Homo sapiens: one gene and its partners. The protein of the gene in region 7 interacts with the protein of the main gene of each other region in a biochemical or structural test. Each region holds a gene or a part of one and is shown on either strand. Other genes may lie near its edges.

Region 1 (3,843 bases), on a different chromosome or scaffold from region 7:
CATGCATGCTGTTCCCTGTTATAAACACATGTATGTCCATCTTGTAGACAAACACATGTCAGACACATACCCATAGTCACACATATGTCCCTCCATATACATACACCTTAAAAAAAGAGAAGAGAGCTGGGCGTGGTGGCTCACACCTGTAATCCCAGCACTTTTGGAGGCCGAGGTGGGCAGATTACTTGAGGTCAGGAGTTCGAGATCAGCCTGGCCAACATGGTGAAAACCTGTCTCTACTAAAAATACAAAAATTAACTGGGTGGGCTGGTGCACACCTGTAGTCTCAGCTACTCAGGAGGCTGAGGCAGGAGAATCGCTTGAACCTGAGAGGCAGAGGTCGCAGTGAGCCGATACTGCACCACTGCACTCCAGCCTGGGTGACAGAGTGAGACTCTAAAAAAAAAAAAGAAGAAAAAAGAAAGAGAAGAGGTAAATGACACAGCAACAGAAAAGGAATAGGGAGGAATAGGGACCACGAGGGATTGGGGTCAGAGAGAGCCTGCCTTTTCCATGTGTGAGGACACCCTTGACATTGGACAACCCCCATGTATTTGGCCCCCAGGGCTGGCATTTCTCTTTGCTTAGAGTCTGGAGAGAGTGCTAGTTGCTCCCAGGCTTGAGTCCCACGTGGCTGCTGGAGAGAGGACAAGCTCAGCTAAATGGCCTCAGCTGCAATGACTGTAGGCGGGCCTGGCCAGATGAGGAGGGATAGAGAGAGACCTCTCTTTGCCAGCCCCTCTTTAGGACAATTAACAAAAATTTCCTAGCTGTTGAATCTAAAAATAGTTGTGATTAGCATGCTGTTTTGCATGTGATTCACATGGTAATTTGCCATAAAACTGCCCAGATCCTCTCGCCACCTCTTTTGTTTCTGTTTTGGATTCCGGCCTTTCATCCCCTTCTTATAGCTTGCCCCTCTTTGTCCCCTCCCCTCCACTCTTCCCACCCTCAGCCCTGCATTCTCGCCAGGCCTGTCTGTTTTTCTCCAGCTGGAAATACTGCTGGCTAACCTTGGCTTCTATGCACTTCCTATATAGTCAGCCCTCTGTATCTGAGGGTTCTGCATCCACTGATTCAACCAACCGCAGATCAAAAATATTTGAAAAAAAGAAATATGTCTATACTGAACATGTACAGATTTTTCTTGTCATTATTCCCTAAACAACACAGTATAACAACTATTTACATAGCATTTACATTGTGTGAGGTATTATAAGTAATCTAGAGAGGCTTTAAAGTACATGGAAAGATGTACATAGGTTACATGCAAATACTATGCCATTTCGTATCAGGGACTTGAGCATCTGCAAGTTTTGGAATCTTCAGGAGTCCTAGAGCCAATCGCCCATGAATACCGAGGGACAACCGTGTAGAGCTGGAAAAGAACTTGATTTCAGTAAGCATAACAAGCCCTATCCCTGTTCCTCCAGGTCTGATTGTGCTGGCCACAATCACTCCTGAATCATCGCTGGACTCAGGTCATGAAACCAACTCTTCAGAGCTCACAGACATGTCAGAGATGATGTCGGCCATGAAGCAGCACCAGAACACCACCTACTTCCTGGCCCAGCACCTCAACAAGGACAGCCTCCTTGCCCGCAAGGACCTGCCCTTCCGGATCCAGAGCTGTGCAGCCCAGGCCGTTCTTACGGCCCCTTACTCTCTTGGGCGCCCGGATCCCAACCCATCTCTCCAACCCATTGCCACAGGCCAGAGTCCTGGCCCCCCTGGCGCTCGGAGGAAGCTGCCCCAGTCAGAGGGCCAGGTACAGGGAGAACGAACATACTCCTTGGCAGTGCACCCAGCACTGTCCCCACAGCTTAGTGAACAGAAGAATCTGAGTCTGCTGTCCCCAGTTCCTGAGGACAAAGGGCCTGGCCACACTAGGGCAGGCCTAGAAATGTCACTGAGGGCAGCCACATCATCCCTCAGTGAAGAGCAGGTCTCTGAGCTGAGGGACAACCTGCCCAAGGAGGTCAGGTTGAGCCCCAAGCTTATCCTCGACCCAAAGAGCAGTGTGACCCCTGCCATCATCTCGGCCGCCCTACAGCAAGTGGTTCACAATAAGAGTCTAGTCACTGCTGGTGGGGCTTTGGGGAACCCCCCCAGCAGGGGTGAGAGAAGGCTGGAGGCCAGCATGGGGAGGCCAGAGGTTAGCATGATGAGCAGCAGTGCCAGTAAGAATCTGAAGTTCAAAATTAGCCCCAGTGCTCCAGAGACCTCATGGAATTCTCAACATCAGCTGGGTGCAGAGGTCTCTTCCAGCCCCAGAGCACCCACAGGCAGCCGGGCTGACAGCCTGCACCTCTCCCAACAAGAGGACAGTCTGCCTGTTCAAAATTTCCCTCCCAAAAGCTATCTTTTGCGAACAAGCCGAGAGTCAGTGGGCAAGCAAGCTACAGGGGAGGTGGCAGGCAAAGGCGGGCCAGTGGGTGGTAAGCCCACCCTGCAGAAGCAGGGCACCATCTCCAGCCAAGGGGAGAAGGCGCAGCTGGAGAGCACACCCAAAAGAAGCAAGCTCGAAGAGACCAGCCTGGTTCCCCGAGCTACCTACCCCATGGCTCTGCAGAGCCCCAGCTGCCAGTCAAGAAGCCACAGCCCCAGCTGCCAGCCTCATGGCCACAGCCCCAGCAGCCAGTCTCGAGGTCAGAGCCCCAGCTGCCAACCTCGAGGCCAGAGCCCACTGAGGTCTCAGGCTGCCAGCCGGCAGGTGAGCACCATGCCCTCTAGGAAGCTTGAAACAACTCTCAATGGAGCCCACTCGACCTCTGAAGGCCCTGCCAAACCCAAGTCATCCCGAGGTCCTTTCCGGCTACGCAATTTATTCTCTGCCACCTTCCCAACCCGCCAGAAGAAGGAGACAGATGAGCGGCAGGCCCAACTGCAGAAGGTAAAGCAGTATGAACTGGAGTTCCTTGAGGAACTTCTAAAGCCACCAAGCCAGGGGGAGCTGCCAGGCACCGAGTACCTGCAACCTCCAGCACCTGGCCGCTGCAGCTGCCAGCTCCGCAGCAGCCCTGTGCAGCAGGGGCCTGGCATGTCCCGTGAGCAGAGGCGCAGCTGTGACTGCAAGCGCATCTGCCGGGGGGGCCGGCCACAAGCCACCCAGACACCAGTGCCCAGCCTCCGGGGGAGGGAAAGGGACAGAGTCCTCCCTAGCCAGAGGCAGCCAGAGGCTGGCCCAGGCGTGAGCCTCAGCAGCCCCATCAATGTCCAGCGCATTCGTTCTACCAGCCTGGAGTCCCGAGAGTGCCGATCGGACCCTGAGAGTGGTGTTTCGTGCCTGACCACGTGTGCCTCGGGGGGCGAGTGTCTGGGAGCTCCCAATTACAGGAAACTGATGCGCCGCTACAGTATCAGTGAGCTGGACCAGGGTGACAGGGCCTCGCTGACCTCGGATGTCTACCCACATCCTCCCCTGGGCATGCTGCCCAGGGAGGCCAAGGAGGTAGAGGCAAGCCTCCCCATAGCCTTGGGTCCCAAAAGCAGGTCTCTGGAGTCACCGACGCTGGGAGACCCCTCCTACGTCCAGGTTGCCCCAGAGACCAAAGGCCCCAGACAGATGGCCGTGTTCTCACTGCCCGAGGAGGTGTACCGGAAGCCTGCCGAGCTAGACGAGGACAGTGAGAGCAGCAAGTGCTGCTCCATCCGCTACTGCTTCTACTACCGCAAGTGTGACATGGCAGATGATGCCAGTGATGGCAAGGATGAGCTCTCCTACTCTATCCCCATGAAGATCCTGCCTGGCATGAAGCTGGACGAGCAGGTGGTGCCTGTGGTGAGCAGGACCCTGCAGGTGCTGGATGCTGCTACCTGCAGCAGCAGCAGCCCTGAGGC
Region 2 (4,293 bases), about 64 Mb from region 7:
CTTTCTGGAGTGTTTGGGTAAAATCTCCCTCAGAGTCAAAAATATGATACTTGAATCAAAACTGTGGATGTTTTTGAGGCTCTGTTGAGTTAGTGGGTAGCATAAAGAAGGATGTTAAGCTTAGAGACAAGATGTTGATTTTGAACTTACGGAGAAAGGTTTGTTCCGGTGTTGGAGCCCTGCTTGGAACTTTTACCAACCTCAGTGCCAGCCTTGAGAACAGCAAAGGATGGTCTGGCCCAGAAGCTGCCCTAGATAGTTTCCCTGGCCTCAGACCCAGCCTGGCCTCAGCTGAGGCCTTAGGGAAGCTTGCTGTCTCTCCTTGCCCCGAAATTAACCCTCAGTGGCCCTTACTGAACGCTTTTGCTGTTCCTGGGTCAACCATAAAACTCCTCCCATTGGAAGCTGTTTAAGAACTTGTTTATTTCATTGGGCCGGCTCTCTGCTCCTGCTGGGTACTGTTTATTCTCTTCTAAAAGGCAGAAGGATTTATATGTCCTGGAAACTCTCATGTGCAACATTTTTATTTTCTTTTTAAAATAAGCCCTAATGTTTGCTTCTCTGTTATAAGCTGAAGGAGATTAGAAACACTCAGATTTTCAGTACCAGCTCTTCAGCAGCCTAGAACTTGCACAAATGATGTGGCATTCTTTAAATTATCTTAGGTTTCAGTTTTTTTGACACCTGCTGAACGCTTAGGGTTTGTTAGTGCTGTACCAGCATAGACGTTGTCTCTTCTGTTCTACCATGTGAGCTATATTAAGGATTCTCAAGCCTTAGCGTGATTGGAGTCACTGGAGAGCTTAACACAGATTCCTCAGTCTCACCCCTAGAGATTCTGATCCATTAGGGCTGGCCAGGGGCCTGATATTCTGCATTTCCAATGAGCTCCCAGATGATGCTGGTCCTTTAAGTAGCCGCTAAGCTAGACGAAGAGCTTACGCTCAGGTAGATATAGACCAAACATGTATTGGTCTTCACACAGTTATGGTTTCACTGGTCATTGTCTAAACACCTTCCTAAATTTCTTAAGACCAGGATAAAATTTTAAAACCCAGACTGCCTAGGCCGGGCTCAGTGGCTCACGCCTGTAATCCCAGCACTTTGGGAGGCCGAGGCAGGCGGATCACGAGATCAGGAGATCGAGACCATCCTGGCTAACACGGTGAAACCCCGTCTCTACTAAAAATACAAAAAATTAGCTGGGCGCGGTGGCGGGCACCTGTAGTCCCAGCTACTCGGGAGGCTGAGGCAGGAGAATGGCGTGAACCTGGGAAGCGGAGCTTGCAGTAAGCGGAGATAGTGCCACTGCACTCCGGCCTGGGTGAAAGAGCAAGACTCCGTCTCAAAAAAAAAAAAACAAAAAAAACCCAGACTGCCTAGCAGTTAAATGACAGGTAATCATAGCCTAGACAGGCATCTCTGATCTCACTGAGGCCACATCTGAGCTGCAGCAGACTTGGGATTGCTACACTTGAGTGAGTTAAAGAGTTCTGCTCCCAGCCTCAGTTTCCCATCCTGACTTACCCCCTGATTCTTAGAGCAAAAGCACTCCAGAGCAAACATCTTTTTTGCTTTTCTTTCTGGGAAAGGAACAATTCTGGACATAACTTTCCTTGGATTGATTGAAAAACTTGAGATACATCCTCGATACCTTTTGTTCTTTAACCTCCCATCCGGTCTGTCTTTGAATCCTGCGGATTTTACCTCCTAAATACATTTTGAATCTATTCACAGCTCTCCAGCTCACTCAAATGACCACCGTGGTCCAAACCAGAGTTTCTGAATCAGCACTGCCAACATTTTGGAATGGATAATTCTTGGGTGTGGGTGTGTTGTTGGTGGTGGTGGTAGTGGTGATGGGGGTGGGAGGCTGACCTGTGCATTGTAGGATGTTTAGCAACATCCCGGGCATCTACCTACCTACCTACTAGAGGCTAGTAGCGCTTTCCAAGTAGTATCAACAGTATTTGTGGACATTGCCAAACGTCCCTTGAGGGGCAAAATTGGCCTTTGTCTCAGACACTCTTGCCTGGACCATAACTCTTTCCTCTACAAATCTTCTTGCTCCTCTTCAATTCCTTCTTTACCTAGCATCAGGAATTAATCTCTTATAAATGTGTATCTTTTATCACTCTCCCTCAAGCCTCCTATGCTGTCCCATTTCTCTTGGTTGGCTATAAGGTCCAACATGCTCTGGATCCTACCGGCTTCCACCTGCCTGGATTCTTCTCCCCTTCATCCTCTTCTTTCAGCTTCTCATGTCTCTGAGAGTCGATGCATGTGCCCCTGAGCTCCTCTCTGCCTCCAGGCCTTTGCACTTGCTCTTCTGTCTACCTGGAACAATCTTACCAAGTACTCTGCACTAAATAACCTGCAAAATTTCCACTTCTCTCCTCTTGCCCACAGCCTTTCTGTCTGCACTTAGGATTTGCTTATCACTAGACAATGGTTCTTTCTATTCTCATCTCAGCTGAAGCATCACTACCTCTAGGAAGCCAGGCCTCTCGGACCTCGCAGACTACATCTGGTGCCCTGAGACTCTTACTTTGGTTATCCTCCTGCATGGCATTTATCATAGCTGTAACTAAATAAGTGGAAGAGTCTGTCTTGTCCAGTACCATGTCTGTGGCACTAATCCATTGCCATGTGCACTGTAAGCTCTTGATATGTATTCATTTGGTGATGAGTTCAAGATTGAAAGGCCTGTCTTGGCAGTCATCAAAACTTTTCAGGTTGCTAACCAAAAGTGGGCTCGTGTTTAAAAAGAATGAGTTTCTCCGTGATGACCCAGTTAACAAAATTGTTTTCAGGTTTAGGGGAGGCATTATTTTTGTTCCACTAGATCCACCCAGATCAAGTTTTATAAAGCCCCAAATCCTAGAAACTATTTTGTCCTTTTCAGAACTGGAAATAAGTAAATCTGATAGACAATTGTATCAAAAGGTGTTCCAGATGTCCAAACACTTTGAAATGTATCTGTTAGAGTATTCACCATGAAGTATATTTTGTTTCTGAAAAGCTCCTGCACAGGGCCATTCCATAGTATATCTAACAAAACAGCGCACTTCTGCTAAAAAAAAGTTACAGATTGTCACTTCTATTTCATTTCTGTGATTTATAAGGAAAATTAGGATTTGTTTTACAAATATGTTACCCAGCTACACTGGATTAAATGAGTATAACCAGACAATTTGAATTGGCAATTCTGTTGAGATTTGTCTGTAAGTGGCTCTTTCTGTGTTCAGAAATGGTGCTTGCCTCGCTATAAAAATATTTGATGAGTAAGAATCTATTTATAAGGCAATTATGCATTGGACCGTAGACCAAGGAGCTTAAAAGAAAAGAAAATAATATTCATTGAGTTCCACTGGGTGCCATACACTTAAGGTGCTTTCTGTATGTGCATACATTATCTTCTCCATGTTCTTCATTAGATAGACCTCTTTTTTTAATGGGAGTAGCAGATTATGAAAGATTAAGGCTAGAAGTTAGATTCTAAATGTAGAGCTGGGATTTGAACCCAGTGTGGCCCATCTCCGAGCTCACACTGTTACCAAAATAAGAAAAGAATTTTTTCCTGGGGCGGTGCCCTTCTCTGAAGTCTCACACAGGCTTTCAAAGCACCATTATTATGTATGCCAAGTACTGTTTGGATTGGAGGTGTACATGCATTATTTTATTTCATCCTCAGAAAGACCCTGCAAGGTCGGTGCTCTTACCCATGACTCTTTCCTTCCATTTTACAGATGAAAAAACAGAAGCTCAGAAAGTTAAATAACTTGCCAAGTGTCCTCCACTGGCTCATGTTAGTTTGCCTGTTGGCTTCTGGTCCATGAAATGTTTTCATCCCATACCATGTTCCCATTTACATAGGTCCAGTGTAGAGCACATGGAGTACAAAACAAAACAGATCCTGGCTGTGAAAGAGATTTAGGCTGGGCATGGTGGCTCACGCCTGTAATCTCAGCAGTTTGGGAGGCCTAGCCGGAAAGATCACTTGAGGTCAGGAGTTTGAGATCAGTCTGGCCAACATGGTGAAACCCAGTCTCTGCTAAAAATACAAAAATTAGCCAGGTGTGCTGGTGCACACCTGTAGTCCCAGCTACTGGGGAGGCTGAGGCAGGAGAATTGCTTGAACTCTGGAGGCAGAGGTTGCTGCGAGCCAAGACCAGATCGTGCCAGTGCACTCCAGCCTGGGCAACAGAGTGAGACCCTGTTAAAAAAAAAAATAGATTTAGACAAAAAAGAGATGATGTCCTGGATGGAATATGAGAACAGCTCTTTAATTTT
Region 3 (4,293 bases), on a different chromosome or scaffold from region 7:
AGAAGTCATTTTCCCCCCTGAATCTTAGTGTAAAGGCAGCTGCAGTCTGCTGACAGCTTGTGGTTATGCTCTGATTTACTGGGGAAGGAGGAGGTTGTACTATTTTAAATGCATAATAGAGCATTCGTTTCGTCATCTGGAAGCAGAGATGGAAGAAGCTGGGGGGAAATGAGAGACATCACTGTTGCTTTCGTGGAGGGAAGCTTTGTAGCATGTTATCAGACAGCAGTGCATATTGAAGAAAATATCTGTTAGGAATGCATGTCACCAGATGTATTTTGCTTTCAAGAATGGTAGACACATCAAACAAGAATCAGATAAAAGCCTGAGAAAAAGATGTTCAGAAGAATACTGGAGTTATTCTTTATGCTTCACTGCCCTTTACCTCTCTTGGTACCTTCCAGAGAAACAAGTATAGATGTATTTTTAGCTTGCCGTTTCCAGCATCAATATGACAACATGATTTTGTCTTTATATCAGTAAGCAGCTTCTACTATGTTTTCCTATTTTCTGCTAGCTACAGTTTACAAAGGATGTCACAGCACTGGTAAGAAATGCACAGTAGCCATTTCCTTGCTTTTTAAGTCATGTTTTGTAGAGATTTGTAATAAGCCAATCTATTAAAAACTGTTCACTTTTGCTTAGAGAAATCCCTCTATCGTGTTAATCTTACTAATTTGCAGAATACGTTTGTGATAGATGGTTTGCCATCCTTATTTTTTATTTTTATGTTTGGTTTTCTTTTGTATCCTGTACATAACTGATGCTACAGCGTAATATTTATCTGCATCAGTATATATATATATATATATATATATATATATATATATATATATATATATATATGTTTTTTAAGTATCTCACCCTCTTCCTGTCACTACTACTTTGCTGTTACGTTTGTGGCTGCACTTGAGCTTTGCAAGCTGTCGAATGCAAAGAGCAGGATGTGATGATAGTCTTGAGTTAAGCTTGTTTTGATTAGGGGAAGATGTGTTACCACATCTGTCTCAGATGCTGAACATAGTCCCTGTGTTGCACTGATGAGCTCTGTTTTGTAAAGTCTCTATAGTTGATTTCTGTTATTCTTAAGGCTTTAAAAATATTGCTGAATAATTTTACAAATAGTTGATAAAAAACTATTTAGGCTGCATGCCTGCCTGTTAGTAATAGAGAAATGTCTCCTTATAATAAGTAAAGGAGACCAAATAAATTTGTATGATATACTTTTGCATTAGCTTAAAATAAAAATATAAATTATATACAGAACGATGAGTTACCTTTTTTCATGTTTTTCTGCCTTTATTATATGTGCTTTATTTCTTAAACTTGCATATTATCTTACTTTAAATATTAAAATACTTAGCATGGCTGCTGAAGGTCTTAATTTGTCAAAATGGATTATTCTTAGGGACTCTGTAATGGTTAATTGACAAGATGCTTCAAATAAATTAGACTTAATTTATTATAGTAGTAGTACTTAAAATGCATTTAAGATTTTTAATATTTTCACCTTTTCTCTGGCAAAATACATGAATCTTCCTTTGCTGGGATTTATTTGGCAGCCATTTAACCTGTCAACTGCTGAAACTCAGAAGGCTTGAATGGGGAGAATTTTAGAAGTAATGTGGGTACATCTAATTGGTTGGGTAGAAATTTGATGAGTTTCACATGTTTTGAGCAAAGAGGTGATTGTAATTTGTATGTGTTGCAGATTCTACAGTTTATTTGATTTCTGAGAGACTAGCTCTTTCTAGATTTGTAGAGTACCCTTATGTTGTGTTTGCATGCATGCTATAGTGAATGTCACTCAGGAACGAGGTAGGACATAGATAAAATAGTGCACTGTAAAAATGGAAATTATTATTCTTTTTATGAATTTCCAGTGACACCTTCCTCTCATTTCTATACAGGCATATTCTCAAGATGCCTACCTGAAAGGCAACGAAGCTTATAGCGGCAATGCCCGCAATATACCTGAACCTCCACCAATCTGCTATCCCTGGCTGCCATCTGCCCCATCAGCCATGGCACAGCCAGTTGAAATATCTCCTCCTGACTCATCATTGAGCAAACAGCAAACCAGTACACCAGTACTGACACAACCTGGTAGGGCCTATAGAATGGAAATACAAGTGCCTCCATCACCAACAGATGTTGCAAAATCAAACACAGCAGTGTGTGTTTGCAATGAAAGTGTAAGGACTGTCATTGTGCCTTCTGAGAAGGTTGTAGATTTGTTATCCAATAGAAACAACCATACAGGTCCTTCACATAGAACTGAAGAAGTGAGGTATGGCGTGAGTGAGCAGACCTCTTTAAAAACAGTGTCAAGAACCACATCACCACCATTATCAATTCCCACCACTCATCTAATTCATCAGCCTGCAGGCTCCAGATCACTGGAACCTTCTGGAATTTTACTTAAGTCTGGAAATTACAGTGGACATTCTGATGGAATCTCAAGCAGCAGATCTCAAGCTGTGGAGGCTCCCTCTGTATCTGTTAATCACTATTCGCCAAATTCCCATCAGCACATAGACTGGAAAAACTATAAAACTTACAAAGAGTATATTGATAACAGACGATTGCACATAGGTTGTCGGACAATACAAGAAAGATTAGATAGTTTAAGAGCAGCATCTCAAAGCACGACAGATTATAACCAGGTCGTCCCCAACCGCACTACTTTGCAGGGACGACGTCGAAGCACCTCTCATGATCGAGTGCCCCAGTCTGTCCAGATACGGCAACGCAGTGTGTCCCAAGAAAGACTGGAAGATTCTGTGCTAATGAAGTATTGTCCAAGAAGTGCATCTCAAGGAGCACTGACGTCTCCATCTGTTAGTTTTAGTAATCATAGAACTCGTTCATGGGATTATATTGAGGGACAGGATGAAACCTTAGAAAATGTCAATTCTGGAACTCCAATACCTGATTCCAATGGAGAGAAAAAACAGACTTACAAGTGGAGTGGGTTTACTGAACAGGATGATAGACGAGGTATTTGTGAAAGACCTAGGCAGCAAGAAATTCATAAATCTTTTCGAGGTTCCAATTTTACTGTGGCTCCAAGCGTTGTTAATTCTGATAACAGGCGAATGAGTGGTAGAGGAGTGGGATCTGTGTCGCAGTTTAAAAAAATTCCACCAGATCTAAAAACATTGCAGTCAAACAGAAATTTTCAGACTACTTGTGGAATGTCACTGCCTCGGGGTATTTCACAAGACAGGTCACCTCTTGTGAAAGTCCGAAGTAATTCTCTGAAAGCTCCTTCCACGCATGTCACAAAACCATCATTTAGCCAGAAATCATTTGTTTCTATCAAAGACCAAAGACCAGTAAATCACTTGCATCAGAACAGTCTGTTGAATCAGCAGACATGGGTAAGGACTGACAGTGCCCCCGATCAGCAAGTGGAGACTGGGAAATCCCCCTCTTTATCTGGAGCCTCTGCCAAGCCTGCCCCTCAGTCGAGTGAAAACGCTGGTACTTCAGATTTAGAACTACCTGTCAGTCAAAGGAATCAAGATTTAAGTTTACAAGAGGCTGAAACTGAGCAATCAGATACTTTAGATAATAAAGAAGCTGTCATCCTAAGGGAAAAACCTCCATCTGGACGCCAGACACCGCAGCCTTTAAGGCATCAGTCTTACATCTTGGCAGTAAATGACCAGGAGACCGGGTCAGACACTACCTGCTGGCTGCCCAATGATGCACGTCGAGAGGTCCACATAAAAAGAATGGAGGAAAGAAAAGCCTCGAGTACCAGTCCGCCTGGCGATTCTTTGGCTTCCATCCCATTTATAGGTGAGCTCATTTAGAGTCATTGGCTAATATGCCAAATGTATAAGAAATCTTTCCAGAAAAGTATTATTTCTAGTTCAATAGGCATAGAAGTCTTACACTGTGATTTTAAAATGTTTCTAGTGAATCTCATAAGCTGTGCTTCAACCAGAGCTTTCACAAACCTCTTTAAAAGTTATTTCTAGTACCAATTTTCCTTTTTTTAAAAAAAAAACAAAAACTTCATGTACCTAGTACCCATTTCAAATTTTTATTTTGATGAAACAAATTCCTGAGATTAAGGAAATCAGCGAAGCAAATTATACCTAATTGTTGATTCAGGTGAATGAAAAACCAAGTGGAACAGTTTTGATAATTAGTTACCAACCTTTCATTTAAACAGTGCTTTTACTTTCTAAAACATATTTCTTTGTAAATTTAACGTGTACTGAGAGAAAAGACCTCTTCATTGTCAAGTTAGTTTGCCATACTATAAATCCTGGAACAGAT
Region 4 (4,293 bases), on a different chromosome or scaffold from region 7:
CAACTCCTCTCAGGAAAGTTCGTAAAATGGCACTTGGTCTATACACTGGCAGTTGTGCAAACTAATTTAAAACATGCCACAGTTAGTTTCAGTTTCCTTGGGAGTTCTCAGCTACTTCATTAAATTTACCATAAATGTTAAATTTTAATTGTTAAATTTTAATTTTTACATATTTTATAACACACAAGGAATGATTTCGTTTTAACTTGGTCTATCTGAAATCCTCATTTTCATGTAAATAAGGTAATTATGTAAATTTCAGTTATAGTTTTCATTTGTAGTATATTTGAATTTTCATTTTAAATCTGTAGTTACCTGTATTAATCTTTTGAAGGTAGTTCTCTTCAGATTACAAAAATTCTCAAATACTTTAAACCCTTGTATTTTTCTTGTGATTCTAGTAATGCTTTATTACTGTAAGAAAAACTTCTCACCCATCATTTTTCCAGTCTTTTACTTCCAGCCATTCTAAAGTAGAGGATAAATGAGTAAGAGCAGAGTTCATCTATAATAAAAAGATCTGTTGGTTCATGTAATGCCAACCAACACCCCAGCTTATCTGAGGTCAGCATAGTTACACACCTAGTTTGTACTTCCTCATTATTGAGTTTCCTTGGAGACTGATAAATACAAAGCCCAAACAATTACATCATCCCTTCTAAAAGGCAAGCCCTGAATCTGCCTGCTTTCTGGAAAGACCAGTCAGTATTCAGATGAGGGTAGAGATATTCCTTTTATGTACAAACCAGATGCATTCTTGAAAGATTCTTTAGAAAGTGAAATCATCCGAATTTTCAACCTGAATTTTCCATTGACTTCCATTCTAATTGGAAATGTGTTTCGGTGGAGGGAGAAGGGAACAGACCCTGGTTGAATATGTGCCACGAGCCAGGCACTGTACTTGACACTCTAGTAACTCACACAAATCCTTGTAAAGAAGGCTTTATCTTCTTCATTTTAAAGATGAAAAATGGGCTTAGAGGGGTATTCCTTGCCAAACAGGAAATTGCAGGGAAAAATTGAGCCAAGGCGGAAAAATAAAGACCCTTCCTTGGGGCTCTGCATCCTCTGCTGCTCCTAGGAATTGCCATGGTGATGGAGAGAAGAAGAAAGAATGACCATCCTGGCTGCGGCACATGTAGGCAAGGGTACCAGGCCACCCATCTGTAAATCTCTGTCTTCATGACCATAGCCTTTAATTACTATATATTATTTATTTGGGTAGCTGTGCCATAAAATTTACTTAACTACTCTTTGATAACTGCTGAAGTTTTGTGTTGTTTTTTATTTTTTGTTATTTATTTTTATTTTTTATTTGTGAGATGGAGTCTTGCTCTGTCACCCAGGCTGGAGTGCAATGGTGCAGTCTTGGCTCACTGCAACCTCTGCCTCCTGAGTTCAAGTGATTTTCTTGCCTCAGCCTCTGAGTAGCTGGGATTACAGGCAGGTGCCACCACGCCTAGCTAATTTTTATATTTTAGTAGAAACGAGGTTTCACCATGTTGGCCAGGCTGGTCTTGAATTCCTGAACTCAGGTGATCCTCTTGCGTTGGCTTTCCAAAGTGCTGCGATTACAGGAATGAGCCACCGTGCCTGGCCTGTTTTGTTTTTTTAGGGATGAGAGTCTAGCTCTGTCACCCAGGCTGATGTGCAGTGGCACGATATGGCACACTGCATCCTCCATCTCATGGGCTTACATGATCCTCCTGCCTCAGCCCTCTCAAGTAGCTGGGACTACAGGCTACTTGACTGTCTAACTTTTTTTTACGGATGGGGTCTTACTATGTTGCCCAGGCTGGTTTCGAACTCCTAGGCTCAAGCAATCCTCCTGATTTGGACTCCCAAAGTGTTGGGATTACAGGCGTGAGCCACTGCACCCAGCCAAAAGAGAAATCTTTTTTTTTTTTTTTTTTTTTTTTTTTGACAGAGTTCCACTCTCGTTGCCCAGGCTGGGGTGCAATGGTACAATCTCGGCTCACCGCAACCTCTGCCTCCTGGGTTCAAGAGATTCTCCTGCCTCAGCCTCCCGAGTAGCTGGGATTACAGGCATGCGCCACCATGTCTGGCTAATTTTTGTATTTTTAGTAGAGATGAGGTTTCTCCATGTTGGTCAGGCTGGTCTTGAACTCCGGACCTCAGGTGATCCGCCCGCCTCGGCCTCCCAAAGTGCTGGGATTACAGGCGTGAGCCACCACGCTCGGCCCAAAAGAGAAGTCTTAAACATAAAAATATTTTCAGGTTGTTTTCTTTTATTTTAAATTAGGTACTCAATAAAGCTTTTAGTTTTCATGATTTTTTTTTTTTAAGAAAGCATAAAAGACTTGAATATTTAACAAAAAAGGAGAGAAAAAAGGAAGTGCAACAGATGACAGGAACTCTTTTGGAGGCAGCTGTTCTGGGCCTGGGTGTTTTAAGAAAGAGACTAGAGTTCAGGAAGATTTTTCTGGAAAACACAGACACTAAGACACATTTTGAGTTCAGCTGGCTGCACAGAGCATGCATCACCTAGAAGCCATGGGTTGTCCAGACACCCATATAGAAAGGACCTTGCTGATTGGGCTATCAGAAAAGCTGTGATGCTGGCAGGAGGGAAAGAAAAAGTAGAAAAGCTGTAGTTTTAGAAAACAGGAATGTTAATTTCCAAAGTGGCTTTGCGGGTTTGTAAAGGAGCTCTGAGATGTTGTAGCTGTAGTAATTATTCACCTGACTCTTAACAAGTCTAGGGTGGGGGTGGAGGGAACTTTCTCAAATTACAGAAAGAGGGGAATGAGAACACAAGGAACTCAAAAGTCCTTTTCTGCAGCTCTGCTGGGTACCGCCCCTGTAACAGGTATCCCCGACCTTCTATCTGATTAGCCTTGTCTTTCTCCCAGAAGAAACAATAGATCCTTAATTTCCTTTACCCTTGCTCTGCAGGAGACTGAGACCATCTCTGCCTAGTCAGCAGCTGCTTCCCCTGTGACACCACACCCTCTTACCTTGCTTGTCTAACTTGCTCACTTATGGAGAATTTATCTCCACCTTTTATCATCTCCTGCTTTTGCACTGACCAAAGTGACTGCATATTTCTCTTCACCTAGTGCTTTAATCTCTTTGGTATGTGCCCTGAAAGCGTGTTTTAGCTCTGACTTGAATCTTACAGCCCAAAGCATCAAGGGCTGTCCTGCCCGAGGGTGCCTTAGAGGGCAGGCTTTGCTGGGCCTCAAGGAAGAATCAGAAGGTAGAGATGATTCAGGGGGTGTGAACTCGCACAGGTGCCCATTGTGGGAAACTTCCCCAGTCATTGCCCGTGTGTCTCAGTGGGTGTGTCAGTGTCCCTCAGCTAAAGTTTGGGTTGAACTAGGGCCATCTTAGCAGCTGGAACACCTCTCCCTGGCGCTCAGCCTGCACTGCCCATCAAGGGGTTTGCATTGGATGCCCCCCTTGATTTCTCCTCTGATCCCTGCCTGCAGGAGGTCCTGCACATAGGAAGCGCCCACAACCGAAGTGCCATGCCCTTTACCGCCTCGCCTGCCTCCAGCACTACTGCCAGGGTCATCACAAACCAGTACAACAACCCAGCTGGCCTCTACTCTTCTGAAAATATCTCCAACTTCAACAATGCCCTGGAGTCAAAGACTGCTGCCAGCGGGGTGGAGGCGAACAGCAGACCGTAAGTAGCCCAGGAGTCCTCCTCTGAGCCGCTCCTGGGAGGGGCTTTTCACATCAGGACCAGGGCTGCCCAGGCAGGTGCAAGAGCCACTACTCCAGGGAGAAAAATGACTACATTAGCAGAACACTTCTGTGTTCATTTTCTTCATCTACACAAAGGGGACAATACCTCCTGCTTTATAGGGTGTCTGTAAAAGTAAGAATTAATACGTAAAATGCCCAGCATTGTGTTAAGCACAAACAAATCACTTAATCCTCCAGAACTGTTTTTATTTGTGTTTTGATTTCTGTGGTCATCATCTTCTAATTGAACATAGTCCTTCCTTGACAGGCCTGCTGCTTCCCGAGAAATTCTTCAGTATTATTAGTCGGGGAGTGTTTGAGGGAATCTAGAGTAGCCTGTGCTTATGTCCACCATCTGAACTAAGCAAGGGAGAAATACTTCATGCTGCATAGTTTTGGTGAAGCAGTGTTTGCTTTTTCCCTAGAGTGGACCAGAGGTCATGAAAGAAGAGAGGTCCCTGAGGATATAAATGCTTGTCCTAGGAATAGGTTCTGATCTGGGGACAGAGGCAGGCTTAACTGGGGGAGAGGTAGGGCTGCAGGTGGAAAGGGGAGAGGTGTCTGAGGAAGTGCCTTGCT
Region 5 (4,961 bases), on a different chromosome or scaffold from region 7:
TGAACAATAATTTTCCTGACTAAATAATGAGCCAAAACTCTTTCCCCTAGCAACCACTATTAAGTTGCTTGTGATTCCTTCCAGAACCACAAGAATATGTCTACATAATATTCTAATATACTACAGTGTATAAAGAATATGTATACATAAATATACGTAAATATACCTGGTCTTTATGTACCTATTTGTAATAAAAGGAAACATACTAGGCTATTCCATACCTTTTGTCACTTAAAGAATTTTCTAGGCAATTGTTATATGCCAGCACACACAGATCTACTTCCTTCCTTTACACAGCTGCATAGCTGGTTTTCTACTGTGTGTGAACTACAATAATCACTGTTGATGGGCACTTCAGTGGCTTTCAGTTTTCTGCTACTACCAAAATACACTGCAAAGAGCATCCTTTCTCAGATGCTTTGGTGAACTTTTGCAAGAATGTCCATGGGGTTACTTCTTAGCAGCTGGGTTTACAAAGGATATGTACATTTACAAATTTGATGAATATTACCAAATTCCCTGCAGAGAAGTTGCACTTATCTGTAATCTCACTATTGGCATATGAGAGTACTCATTCTCCATGCCCTCACCAGCACTGAGTTTCATCAGATTTTTTTTTCGAGACAGAGTCTCGCTCTGTCACCCAGGCTGGAGTGCAGTGGCCCGATCTTGGCTCACTGCAAGCTCCGCCTCCCAGGTTCACGCCATTCTTCTGCCTCAGCCTCCGGAGTAGCTGGGACTACAGGCACCCGCCTCCAGGCCCAGCTAATTTTTTGTATTTTTAGTAGAGACGGGGTTTTGCCATGTTAGCCAGGATGGTCTCGATCTCCTGACCTCGTGATCTGCCCGCCTTGGCCTCCCAAAGTGCTGGGATTACAGGCATGAGCCACTGTGCCCGGCCTCAAATTTTAGTATTTTATTCTGTAGTCAGGCAAAAACTCATGTTTTCTTTTTAAATAAATACGTCTCAGTTTTGACACTGCTATTGATTTAAAGGGCTTGAGAGATCTGTTCTTTTGCCCCTTCTACTACAGAGCTATGATCTACTTCTTGCTGTTCCCCATCTCTGCTGGTTCCTTTCTGAATCCAAGCACCAGAAAGAGTAAGAATTCCTTTCCCCCTTTCTCTAACCACATTTTTCTTGCTTTCTCACAGACAGATCCAGGTTATCATTTCCTCCTGCTGCTTTCACATGGTTCCCTGTCCTGTTGGTTGCAGGTCCAATGTCTGACACTATGAAAGGGCATGGAGGACTCTTGAGTTGATGACACTAAGCCTCTGCTCTGGGGCTGCCCCCAGTTCCTTGCAGAGCTCTTTCTTTTGATTGGGCCAGGAGATAAAGAGACATCAGCGTAAAAGCCCTGCTGAGCAGCAATCCCATTGCCTTCAGTGGCACCTAATCCACTTGAGCTCTTCCTGGCTCTCTCACGGGTCACTGGCTTTGAGGACGCAGGCTGCTGGGGTGGCAGTGCCTGCTAACAGGCCAGAGACTGCGCAGGACCCAGGGAATGAGAGTGGTGGCAGGAAAGGGAAGGGGCCTTGTTGACTCACTCGCTGGGCAGCAAGTGCTTAGTGACAAGCAGTAAACAAAGACAGCGGCAACAGTGCTGGTGGCAGGGAGCTCCGCGGACAGACTTGCAAGAGACCCCTGCTCCTTGTTGGAAAGTTGTCCCATGATGAAGGCCTAGACCTGGTCACGGAGACTTTTGGATGCAGCCTTTAACGAAGGACGCAGGTATTCCTTGGCATCATTCAGTTTTCTCCTATAAATCTGGTCAGGGAAAGGGCAAACTTCTTACTGGGTCTAGGTATCCGGAATAAGAAGAACACAGCTGGGCAAGGACCTGTGTCAGTGCCCTTTGTGGTATTATTTGGAGTATTATTTGTTCCAGGCCATTGGCTAAGCCTGATAGACATTGTATTTGTTTTTTAGCAATAAAGAATGGGCTCAGAAGAGAAAACATGGACTTTAGAATCAGACCACCCCTTGTTTGAATCACTGCTTTGCTATTCAGCATCTGTGCAAATTCAAATGACTCTTTTAACTTTCCTAAGACTCGTTTTTCTTACCTGTAAAATGGGGATAATAATGCCCCATGCGTTACGATGTTGCTGAGGATTCATGGGGTGACACGCGTAAGGCACTTAGAACATACTTGGAGCATTTGAGTAGCCCAGTAAATCATGGCTGTCACTATCTTTCAGAAGCAAGTGTTTTGGTTATTGCTTAAAGAGTATCAGTGGTTTAAAGTAAGAAGACTCAGGGTATGCCTAGCTGACTTCCAGAAAACAATGGAAAAGAAATGATTCACCTGGCTTTATTTGTATGCTTAAAGGAAAGAAAAAACTCAGTTGAGGTTTTCAACAGTGTAAACAACTTTTTTTTTTTTTTAAAGCAACAATTGAGTTCAGAGATGAGTCGTGTCTATTTCTCCTGGCTAAATCCTGTGATTTGCTATAGGCTGTAGCTGAAACCAATTAAGTAGTTCATTAATTCAACGAGAACTTACTTGGTATCTCCTGGGGCCACATGCCAAATGCTGGGGATGTCTCCCCCAGCCCAGAGGATCTTCCAGGTTGTAGGACAGTGGGGGTCGGGGGGCAGAATGCTGGACCTGCATGAAAACTGGCGGTGATAGCAAGTGCCGAAATGGAGGTGGCACGGGCTCCTGGGAGAGGTGTTGCTTGAGCATGGCTTTAATGCTAAGCGAACACTAGCAGGAGTTGGGAGCAGGGGGATTGGAAAAGGCATCCCAAGCAGAGAAAAGCACATGCAAAGGCCCAGTGGCATGAATAAGTAAAGCATGCTCTGGGAACAGCAGGCAGTTTGGCCTAACTTTAGTAAAGTGGGAACAGGGGAATCTGATAAGAAAGGAGGCTGCAGAGGTGAACAGGGGAGAGCAAGGAAGGCCTTCTATGGCCCAGAGTTCACTCAGAAGGTCCCAGATAGGCACTGGTAGTTTTAATGAAGGATGTGTCGTGTCTGCATTTAATATTAAGAAGATTAATCTAGTAGCAATATGGGTGTGGGATTGGAGAGGATGAAACCTGGAATGATGACAGATGGCCTAACCTAAGAAAACAACAGTGGAATGTAGAGAAGGGGAGGTCTCCAAGCTGGTGCTGCCAGCACTGTGAGCAAAAACAAATACATATGCATCTAATAAGTTCATTATAAATTTTACTGATATGAAGGATGTATATTGCACAATTTACAAGTAATAAAATATAAAATACTCTTTATTACAAATTCTATATAGCCATTTGATTCTCACAGCATGCATTTGTTGATTTTTGCTGAACTCTTATACCCTTGGTCAGCCTGTTTGCAATTGACCACTGAATGTAGTTCCAATATGAATGTTGGTTGATATTTTTGTTTACATTGACAAGTAAGAAGAAAGTGAAACAATGAAGATGATTGTCTTAACTTCACTCATCTGTCAATGACATGAGTGACTGCTGGATCAGATCATAGTTTTTGAATTTGGAAGAGTGTTTTCCCAATTTTTGTGTTATTCACAATGTAACAACTATGGACGCGACACACTTTTAGGTTTAATCTGCATGAACATTTTCTCCATCACTTTCTTAGTTTTCTTAGGGAATGAAAAAACAGCAAACCAAGCCCTAATTTGTAGCTTTTGCCAATTTTTGTGGTATAAATACTACCACCATGGCCAATCACAAGCTCCCAATGTGATATCGCTGAACACAAAGGTGGAAGGGCTGTGCACCAGCACACCATTACACAGTATTTCCATCATAGAAATGTATTTCATTTAAATAAGTTCCAAAGCACAGACAACAGTAAAATGCAGTAAAATAATTTGGAAATGGTGAGTTTCAACATATTGTTAATATAACTTATTTAATTGGAGATTTTTATAATACTTTTTGGTAATGGCTGTGTTTAATGACCAGCTTACAAAATTTCTGGAAATTTAACAATTGGCTCTCACAGGCCAGTAGGAGCCTTCTTCAGCATATCACAGAATCCAAGAAAGGTTTAAGGAGCAGAATACAGAGTGGTGAGAAAATGACTCATGGGTGCAAATGAAGGGGGCACGAAGGAAGAATTAGGAAGAATACTTCCTTCTCTCTGGGGATGAAGCTGTCACTCACCAAAATGTTGGACTTATTAAAAAGAACACCATGAATAGATGACTATGAATTCAACTGCTCAGGAATAGCAAGGGCTGCGGTGTGCAGCCCAGGACAATGCTACCTGCAGCTCCATTAGTGAAGTCATTTCTGGTCTGAAACCCCAGTTTTGCTGGCTTGTCTCTAGCCTATTCCCTGCCCTCTCCATATACTCAGGATTCATAATATGAATAGCTAGGATTTATTGAAAAACTGCCATATGCCAGACACAATAACTCATGGTATAAACGAGTAAAGAGAGGAAGTAACTTGCCCACGGTGAGGTGGGATCAATCCAGCTCTGACCTCGGAGCCTGCTCTTCCAGCCACTATGCTTTTCTATTCTCATTCCCCTCCTGAATTGTATTCACCCTGAGATATCAGTGTTTTTAGCTGCTTTCCTGGCAGAAGTCTGCTTTCGAGGCTGATTCCTATTCCTCAGGCTTCCTTTTACTGGTCGCTGGCAGCTCTACTGTTAACTGCCCTCCCTTTTTTTTTCTTGCCTTGGCTGTAAGCCTCCTTATTCCTGTATTTGCTTGAGCTATCATAGCCCAACATTGTTGGAAATAGAGTAGGTAGTGAAGGGAGGCAGGAAGGAGATGTGTAGGATGGTGCACAGGAACCAGTTCCAGGAGGGCTGGTGCCAGGCAGGAGGCAGATCAAGGCTGAGCTGTCAGAACTCACTCTTCAATAGATTCAAGATGGGTTAAACAGTGTCTGGCTGGAGAGTAAATGTATTAGACATTTTAAAAAAGTGCCATCTAGGAATTTCTTTTGTTTCTTCTATCAGTATCATTTTTGTATGATGCCAGTCCAGA
Region 6 (4,293 bases), on a different chromosome or scaffold from region 7:
CTCCCCTCACTTCACTTTGGATGAGGTTAGGGTGGGGCAGAGTCTTAGAATGTAGGAGAGCCCCATAGTCATCAGCTCTGTAAGGTGTCTGTGCTGGGCCTGTGGCTCCGGAAGGGGCTGGTGTGGGTGATGCAGAGACTCAAGGGTCCTGTCCTGTACAGTGACAGCAGGGATGGTTAATCCCTGTGACTCTGAGGGGTTAGAAATAGGGGTCTTGGAAGTGGGCTCTGCATGGTCTGGAGAGGGAAGAAAGGCTTAGGACGCACATCGGTCAGGTTTCTGTCTGCTAAGCCGGGGGAAAGCCATGTGACCCTGGGCAAGTTACTCAGCCTCTCCTGACCTCAGCTTCTTCATCTGTGAACTGGGAGTTAGAACAAATGACCACAAAGTTCTGTTCCGTTTTCATCATCTGTAACTCTCTAAGACAGCGCTGTCCAGCAGGACTTCCTGCCGTGGTGAAATGTTCTCTGACTGCACTGTCTCATACGGGAGCCACTGGCCGCATATGGCTAGTGAGCATGTGAAGTATGGCTGGTTTCTTGTCTTAATTTATTTAAATTTAAGTAGCCACATATAACTAGTGGCTACCATACTAGACAGTGCAGCTCCACGATACAGAAGAAACTATATTCGATAGAGGAAAATGTAACAAGATCTCAGCGTGGCAGTTCATGGATGTCACAGGCAAATCATGCCAACTAGGAATAATATAAATTCTCCTGAACGCACAACAACAACAGTCCTGTTTCCTTTGAGGAGGCAAGAGTCCTATGAAGCAGAACCATCCGCAGAAGTGAGACAGAAGGAAAAAAGCTTTCAGAAGGGATGGGCTGTGCATCTGCATGAGCTTGCCTGGCAGAGCCTGGTTCAGTAATGAAACCACCAGAGGAGCTGGACACATTTCCCTGTCACCCTTCTAAAGCAGCGGGGAAGGGAGCAAAGTTTTCAGCAGTTTCCAGATCCACCCTGCCTCCTATCCCTTTTCCCCAAAACCATGTGACAGTGTCTAGGCCAGATGCGGTCAGGGGTGGTCAGTGGGCCCTGGGTGTACTCAAATCCCGCTGACAACCTATGCAGCTGAGGTTCCAGGGAAACATACAGCCCCCAGCTGCCAGGCCCCTACAGTCAGTAGTGTTTGCTCTAATAAAATATTAACCCAGTTATTAATATCTCCTCCTTCCCCATGATGAAGGAGTTTATCCGAGAACAATCCGGCACAAAGCTACCTGACCCAGAAGTCATCCAGTTCTGTGTCTCCATCTTCAAATGCTCCAGGCTCCTGCTCACCTGACGGCGTTGATCAGCAGCTCTTAGATGACTTCCACAGGGTGACCAAAGGGGGCTCCACCGAGGACGCCAGCCAGTACTACTGTGACAAGGTGAGCGAGCGCAGGCAGCCGGGTGATCCACACACCCAGGGCTTCCCGGCCTCTTGTGGGCAGCTGAGTAGCTCTAACTAAATGAAAATATCTTATCACCAACTGCTGGAGAGAGATGTGATGCAAATGACCACTTTCAAACCGTTTTCCAGAATGATAATGGTGACAGCTACTTAGTCTTGATCCGTATCACACCAGATGAAGATGGAAAATTTGGATTTAATCTTAAGGTATGTTGTGTATTTATAAAGGAAGTTTTGTGCTGGGAAGCAATCTTTCAATGAGTTTTTAATTTGCATTACAAATGTGCTGCATTCCTGAGCTACATAAGGAAGTTGGTTCAACCCTCAGAATTGAGAGTTGGGGGTTTTTTTTGTTTTTGTTTGGTTTGAGATATTTGGGGTTTTTTTTGTTTTTTTTTAAAAACTCACTTTATCGCCCAAACCTAGAGTGCAGTGGCACGATCGCAGCTCACTGCAGCGCTGACCTCCCCAGGCTCAGGTGATCCTCCCACCTCAGCTGGGACTATAGGGATGCACCACCATACCCAGCTAATTTTTTTCATATTTTTTGTAGAGATGGGGTTTCACCATGTTGTCCAAGCTGGTCTCAAACACCTGGCAATCTACTCACTTTGGCCTCCCAAAGTGCCGGGATTACAGGCGTGAACCACCGCACCCAGCCTAGAATTGAGAGGTTTTTTTTAATGTGGCCTTAACAGCTGCCGAAGGCCAAGTGCCTGCTCTGTGCCTGGCATTGGCTATCCACTAGATTCATAGCACCTTCTTAAGTTCTGATAACAAGTGGTAAGGTCAGTATTTTTAAACCCATTTTGCAAATGAATACTGAGGTTCCCAGAAATGAGGGCACACAGTTGGCAAACAGATCTACCCACTTCAGGAATGCTATTAAGAGAACCCCTCAGCATTGCTAAAGCTGATAAGAGAAAAACAATTCAAGTTCAACCTGCAGGGCCACCACTCTCCTCCAGGCACCTTTAAGCAGGATCTGCAAACTAAACCCACAGGCCAAATCCCATCTGTTTCTGTAACTAGTTTTTTTGGTAACAGCCACAGCCATTTGTTTACTGGTGGGTTAATGACTGCAGAGTTGAGCAGTTGAATCAGAGCCCTCACTCCCACAAAGCCTCTCTGGCCCTTTACAGAAAACGTTTACTCATCCCTACTCTAGGACAAAGTGAGGGCAGGTGGTCGCCTACCCCCCAGCTGCCATCATGCACAGCCTCATCTGCCCCAGCAGCTGTGTTGAGGACCAGCGCTCACAGGCCAGATGCGCTCACAGGGTGTGCCCCCTTCCCAGGCCTCGCTCGCCTCTGCTGAAAGCCCCTATATATATATATATAAAGCCCATATATATATATATTAAAGCCCATATATATATATAAAGCCCATATATATATATATATATATATTTTTTTTTTTTTTTTAATTATTATAAGTTCTAGGGTACATGTGCACAACGTGCAGGTTTGTTCTAGCAGCACTCGAAGACATGCTGTGGAGTCCCTCTCTGGGGGCATCTGCGTTTTTAAGGAGGAGCTTCTCTCTGAGTGTATCTGTTAGTTCATGGACTGTGGGGATGGCAGAGGGAGGCTTCTGAACAGAGTCCTGGTCAGCCCGCTGGATCCAGAGGGGTCAGGAATTTGTTCCATATTTCTGAAATGACGTGTGATTCGAATCAGTCATAGTGAAGTTTGAAGCCTCCCTGTACCAAAGACTCACATTTATTGGTACCTCCATGTTGTTGATGCTGTGAGCTACTCGTTTTTTTGTTTGTTTGTTTGTTTAACTTAAAAAACTTTGTTTTGTTTTTATTTTAAAATGTTTACAGGGAGGAGTGGATCAAAAGATGCCTCTTGTGGTATCAAGGATAAACCCAGAGTCACCTGTAAGTAAATACATTCCATGTTATTCCTCGTGTTTGTTTGTTTCCCCCTAATTCTAACAGGTTTCTGTTTCTGAGTCCTGTTTCTTTTTTTGCCAGAGCAAAGAATGTGCTTAGATATACATCACCATGTTTTCTATAACCTTGCGGCTCAGTGTGGTCTTTGAAGCCATAGCACCCATGTTACCTGGGACCTCATTAGAAATGCAGCATCTCTGGCCTCAGCTTAGGCCTGCTGAACCGGAATCTGCATTTTTAACAAGAGCCTTGAGTGGTTAGTGTGCATTCAATTTTGAGAAGTCCTTTTCAAGAGAAGGAAACTTAGGCAGTCTGCTGTTCTGCTCACTCTAAGTGGGCACGTGGGCCCTGTGCCTCTTCTCACCATCTTTCCACCAGTGCCCCTTTTGTCATCTGTGTAGGCCTCCTAAGAAGAGCATTTGCTTTGTTTTTCTTTCAAATTTATTTTATTGTTTTTAGGCCAGGCATAGTGGCTCACACCTGTAATCCCAGCACTTTGGGAGGCCGAGGAGGGTGAATCACTTGAGGCCAGGAGTTTGAGACCAACCTGCCTGGCCAACAGGGTGAAACCCATCTCTACAAAAAATACAAAAATTATCTGGGTGTGGTGGCACACAGGTGTGATCCCAGCTACTCAGGAGGCTGAGGCAGGAGAATTCCTTGAACCCAGGAGGCAGAGGTTGCAGTGAGCTGAGATCACGCCGCTGTACTCCAGCCTGAGCGACAGAGTGAGACTCTGTCTCAAAAATAAAATAAATTTATTTTATTGTTTTTAAAATAATATCAAGTAATTTTTTCGTTTAATTTTTTTATTGTGCATACTCAAGGTGTACAACATGATGTCTTGTTATACATATAGTACTGCAGTCAAACAAATTAACATGTTCATCACTTTCCATAGTTAACCTATTTTTCTTTTTTAAGAGACAGGGTCTCGCTCTTGCTCTGTCACCCAGGCTGGAATGCAGTGGTATGATCACTGCAGCCTCAA
Region 7 (4,286 bases):
CCCTACAGTGCACAGAACTGTGCCACAGCAAAGAAGCATCTGTTCCAAAACGTCAACAGTGCTGCTGCTGAGAAACTCTGCTGTAACTTCCTAAATTGAACTGGTGTGGGGACAGCTGGATTCCAGTGTGGTTCTGCTACTGACCAGCCCTGTGACCTCCAGCAGGTTGTTTGCCCTCTCTGTGCCTCTATCACCTCATCCATGAAATGAGCAGCTTGAGGCAATGGGCTGAACGTAGGTACCCTCCAGCTCACAAATTCTATGATCCTTTGACGTAACAATGTTCCCCTGGACATTGTTTCTGGTTCAGCTGTATTTTTATTGATTGAAAGAGGGAACTCATTAGTTACCGAGGATTTGGGGATACCTCTCTCCACCATCCAAAAATGTCCATTTGGAATCACAATTATTTTATTCTCAGGAGATTTTGTTCTCGGCTCAGCAAAGCTCTAAAACAGTGCAAGAACTTCTGTTCCACTGCAGAGGCAGTAAAACCAGTGTACCAAAAACTAAGGTTACTAACTATCCTGGTTTGCCCCGGACTGATGGGTTTCCAGGGACACTGGACTTTCAGTGCCAAGACTGAGACAGTTTATGGTAAATAGGAGGTTGGTCCTACTAACAAAGACATCTACAATCATGGAATGTTTATTTTTCTTTCAGCTACAAAGCCGTTTCTTATCATGCCTCAGGCCACAGTGTTGCCTACAAGCCTGGAGGCTTCAAGGCCAGCACTGGCTTTGGGTCCAACACCAAAAACAAGAAGATATACGATGGAGGTGCCCGCACAGAGGACGAGGTACAATCTTATCCTTCCAAGCACGACTATGTGTAATGCTCTAAGACCTCTCAGCACGGGCGGAAGAAACTCCCGGAGAGCTCACCCAAAAAACAAGGAGATCCCATCTAGATTTCTTCTTGCTTTTGACTCACAGCTGGAAGTTAGAAAAGCCTCGATTTCATCTTTGGAGAGGCCAAATGGTCTTAGCCTCAGTCTCTGTCTCTAAATATTCCACCATAAAACAGCTGAGTTATTTATGAATTAGAGGCTATAGCTCACATTTTCAATCCTCTATTTCTTTTTTTAAATATAACTTTCTACTCTGATGAGAGAATGTGGTTTTAATCTCTCTCTCACATTTTGATGATTTAGACAGACTCCCCCTCTTCCTCCTAGTCAATAAACCCATTGATGATCTATTTCCCAGCTTATCCCCAAGAAAACTTTTGAAAGGAAAGAGTAGACCCAAAGATGTTATTTTCTGCTGTTTGAATTTTGTCTCCCCACCCCCAACTTGGCTAGTAATAAACACTTACTGAAGAAGAAGCAATAAGAGAAAGATATTTGTAATCTCTCCAGCCCATGATCTCGGTTTTCTTACACTGTGATCTTAAAAGTTACCAAACCAAAGTCATTTTCAGTTTGAGGCAACCAAACCTTTCTACTGCTGTTGACATCTTCTTATTACAGCAACACCATTCTAGGAGTTTCCTGAGCTCTCCACTGGAGTCCTCTTTCTGTCGCGGGTCAGAAATTGTCCCTAGATGAATGAGAAAATTATTTTTTTTAATTTAAGTCCTAAATATAGTTAAAATAAATAATGTTTTAGTAAAATGATACACTATCTCTGTGAAATAGCCTCACCCCTACATGTGGATAGAAGGAAATGAAAAAATAATTGCTTTGACATTGTCTATATGGTACTTTGTAAAGTCATGCTTAAGTACAAATTCCATGAAAAGCTCACTGATCCTAATTCTTTCCCTTTGAGGTCTCTATGGCTCTGATTGTACATGATAGTAAGTGTAAGCCATGTAAAAAGTAAATAATGTCTGGGCACAGTGGCTCACGCCTGTAATCCTAGCACTTTGGGAGGCTGAGGAGGAAGGATCACTTGAGCCCAGAAGTTCGAGACTAGCCTGGGCAACATGGAGAAGCCCTGTCTCTACAAAATACAGAGAGAAAAAATCAGCCAGTCATGGTGGCCTACACCTGTAGTCCCAGCATTCCGGGAGGCTGAGGTGGGAGGATCACTTGAGCCCAGGGAGGTTGGGGCTGCAGTGAGCCATGATCACACCACTGCACTCCAGCCAGGTGACATAGCGAGATCCTGTCTAAAAAAATAAAAAATAAATAATGGAACACAGCAAGTCCTAGGAAGTAGGTTAAAACTAATTCTTTAAAAAAAAAAAAAAGTTGAGCCTGAATTAAATGTAATGTTTCCAAGTGACAGGTATCCACATTTGCATGGTTACAAGCCACTGCCAGTTAGCAGTAGCACTTTCCTGGCACTGTGGTCGGTTTTGTTTTGTTTTGCTTTGTTTAGAGACGGGGTCTCACTTTCCAGGCTGGCCTCAAACTCCTGCACTCAAGCAATTCTTCTACCCTGGCCTCCCAAGTAGCTGGAATTACAGGTGTGCGCCATCACAACTAGCTGGTGGTCAGTTTTGTTACTCTGAGAGCTGTTCACTTCTCTGAATTCACCTAGAGTGGTTGGACCATCAGATGTTTGGGCAAAACTGAAAGCTCTTTGCAACCACACACCTTCCCTGAGCTTACATCACTGCCCTTTTGAGCAGAAAGTCTAAATTCCTTCCAAGACAGTAGAATTCCATCCCAGTACCAAAGCCAGATAGGCCCCCTAGGAAACTGAGGTAAGAGCAGTCTCTAAAAACTACCCACAGCAGCATTGGTGCAGGGGAACTTGGCCATTAGGTTATTATTTGAGAGGAAAGTCCTCACATCAATAGTACATATGAAAGTGACCTCCAAGGGGATTGGTGAATACTCATAAGGATCTTCAGGCTGAACAGACTATGTCTGGGGAAAGAACGGATTATGCCCCATTAAATAACAAGTTGTGTTCAAGAGTCAGAGCAGTGAGCTCAGAGGCCCTTCTCACTGAGACAGCAACATTTAAACCAAACCAGAGGAAGTATTTGTGGAACTCACTGCCTCAGTTTGGGTAAAGGATGAGCAGACAAGTCAACTAAAGAAAAAAGAAAAGCAAGGAGGAGGGTTGAGCAATCTAGAGCATGGAGTTTGTTAAGTGCTCTCTGGATTTGAGTTGAAGAGCATCCATTTGAGTTGAAGGCCACAGGGCACAATGAGCTCTCCCTTCTACCACCAGAAAGTCCCTGGTCAGGTCTCAGGTAGTGCGGTGTGGCTCAGCTGGGTTTTTAATTAGCGCATTCTCTATCCAACATTTAATTGTTTGAAAGCCTCCATATAGTTAGATTGTGCTTTGTAATTTTGTTGTTGTTGCTCTATCTTATTGTATATGCATTGAGTATTAACCTGAATGTTTTGTTACTTAAATATTAAAAACACTGTTATCCTACAGTTGAATAGCTTCTGCTCTTTTTTCATATGTTTTGGGAAGTGGAGGTGGGAAGTCCCAGCACCTCAACGCTGGATGCTTCTTCATGGGAGTTTTTCTGCTTTCAGAATCCATTTCTGCTCAACAGCAGCCTAGCTACCTAGAGCTAGGTGTCGTTCCAGACCAGTTTGTGGTTTCTGCAAGTTGGGAAGCCTTAATGAAGAGGAGTTCCCAGAGCAACCAGGCATGCAGCATGGGGTCCAAGGATCCAGTTTAGCCTGTCTGACCCTAAGCGCACAAGCCCGAAGTGTCTAATGTCATTGTCCTGTTTGTGGGCCAGTAAAACAAGAGAGCCAATGCCTGCCCTCTTGATGCTGCCAAGGTTGGGTTGACCAGCTCAATAAACTGAGGCTGTATCCAAGCTACAAAAGCAGCATAAGCTATATAGTCAGAACAACCCAACCTCAAATCCAGGTCATACTACTTTGCAGCTATGTTAGCTTGAACAAAGCCCTTAAACTTTCTGAGTCTCCATTTCCTTATCTGTAAAATAGGGATGATAAGAATAATGGAATAATACAAGTAAAGGACCCACTTAAGTGACAGTAAACCAAGCTTCACAACTTTAAGACAAAGAGGGCAATGCTTATGTAACTGGGGTATCTGAGGTCAGGGTTGGCTTCAGACACAGCTGAATCAAGGGTTATGATTAAGACTCTATTTTTCTCTGCCCATATCTCAGTTCTGCTGTCTTCTCTGTTGGTTTGCTTCTCAAGAAGATTGTGAGTTGTTGTGTTGGCTGCTTATATTTCTAGCCATAAAGCCATGTTTCAGCTATGGGAAACCTAGCCAAAGGGAGGCATCTCTTTCCTTCTATGCATAGGAGAAAAACCCTAACAAAATACATTAGATTATTTGAGTAATGTACCCATCCCTAAACCTCTTCCTATAGCCAGAGCAGTGGTA

The links.
Region 1: the proteins of CLDN18 (region 7) and FRMPD3 interact in a test that uses a peptide from one of them, tested with the Homo sapiens proteins (one large-scale study listed by IntAct).
Region 2: the proteins of CLDN18 (region 7) and PDZRN3 interact in a test that uses a peptide from one of them, tested with the Homo sapiens proteins (one large-scale study listed by IntAct).
Region 3: the proteins of CLDN18 (region 7) and ARHGAP21 interact in a test that uses a peptide from one of them, tested with the Homo sapiens proteins (one large-scale study listed by IntAct).
Region 4: the proteins of CLDN18 (region 7) and PDLIM1 interact in a test that uses a peptide from one of them, tested with the Homo sapiens proteins (one large-scale study listed by IntAct).
Region 5: the proteins of CLDN18 (region 7) and FRMPD2 interact in a test that uses a peptide from one of them, tested with the Homo sapiens proteins (one large-scale study listed by IntAct).
Region 6: the proteins of CLDN18 (region 7) and PTPN3 interact in a test that uses a peptide from one of them, tested with the Homo sapiens proteins (one large-scale study listed by IntAct).

What each region holds. Positions count from the first base shown.
Region 1 is NC_000023.11:107,598,867-107,602,709, forward strand, and holds part of FRMPD3 (FERM and PDZ domain-containing protein 3), read left to right. Parts: intron 1-1,436; coding exon 1,437-3,843.
Region 2 is NC_000003.12:73,617,649-73,621,941, reverse strand, and holds part of PDZRN3 (E3 ubiquitin-protein ligase PDZRN3), read left to right. Parts: intron 1-4,293. UniProt on the Homo sapiens protein: E3 ubiquitin-protein ligase. Plays an important role in regulating the surface level of MUSK on myotubes. Mediates the ubiquitination of MUSK, promoting its endocytosis and lysosomal degradation. Might contribute to terminal myogenic differentiation.
Region 3 is NC_000010.11:24,618,987-24,623,279, reverse strand, and holds part of ARHGAP21 (rho GTPase-activating protein 21), read left to right. Parts: intron 1-436; exon of another isoform or gene 437-517; coding exon 518-547; intron 548-1,910; coding exon 1,911-3,807; intron 3,808-4,293. UniProt on the Homo sapiens protein: Functions as a GTPase-activating protein (GAP) for RHOA and CDC42. Downstream partner of ARF1 which may control Golgi apparatus structure and function. Also required for CTNNA1 recruitment to adherens junctions.
Region 4 is NC_000010.11:95,263,223-95,267,515, reverse strand, and holds part of PDLIM1 (PDZ and LIM domain protein 1), read left to right. Parts: intron 1-3,452; coding exon 3,453-3,652; intron 3,653-4,293. UniProt on the Homo sapiens protein: Cytoskeletal protein that may act as an adapter that brings other proteins (like kinases) to the cytoskeleton. Involved in assembly, disassembly and directioning of stress fibers in fibroblasts.
Region 5 is NC_000010.11:48,271,317-48,276,277, reverse strand, and holds the start of FRMPD2 (FERM and PDZ domain-containing protein 2), read left to right. Parts: upstream 1-1,581; 5' UTR 1,582-1,710; coding exon 1,711-1,735; intron 1,736-4,961.
Region 6 is NC_000009.12:109,407,315-109,411,607, reverse strand, and holds part of PTPN3 (tyrosine-protein phosphatase non-receptor type 3), read left to right. Parts: intron 1-1,192; coding exon 1,193-1,379; intron 1,380-1,531; coding exon 1,532-1,609; intron 1,610-3,230; coding exon 3,231-3,287; intron 3,288-4,293.
Region 7 is NC_000003.12:138,030,307-138,034,592, forward strand, and holds the end of CLDN18 (claudin-18), read left to right. Parts: intron 1-663; coding exon 664-835; 3' UTR 836-3,343; downstream 3,344-4,286. UniProt on the Homo sapiens protein: Involved in alveolar fluid homeostasis via regulation of alveolar epithelial tight junction composition and therefore ion transport and solute permeability, potentially via downstream regulation of the actin cytoskeleton organization and beta-2-adrenergic signaling.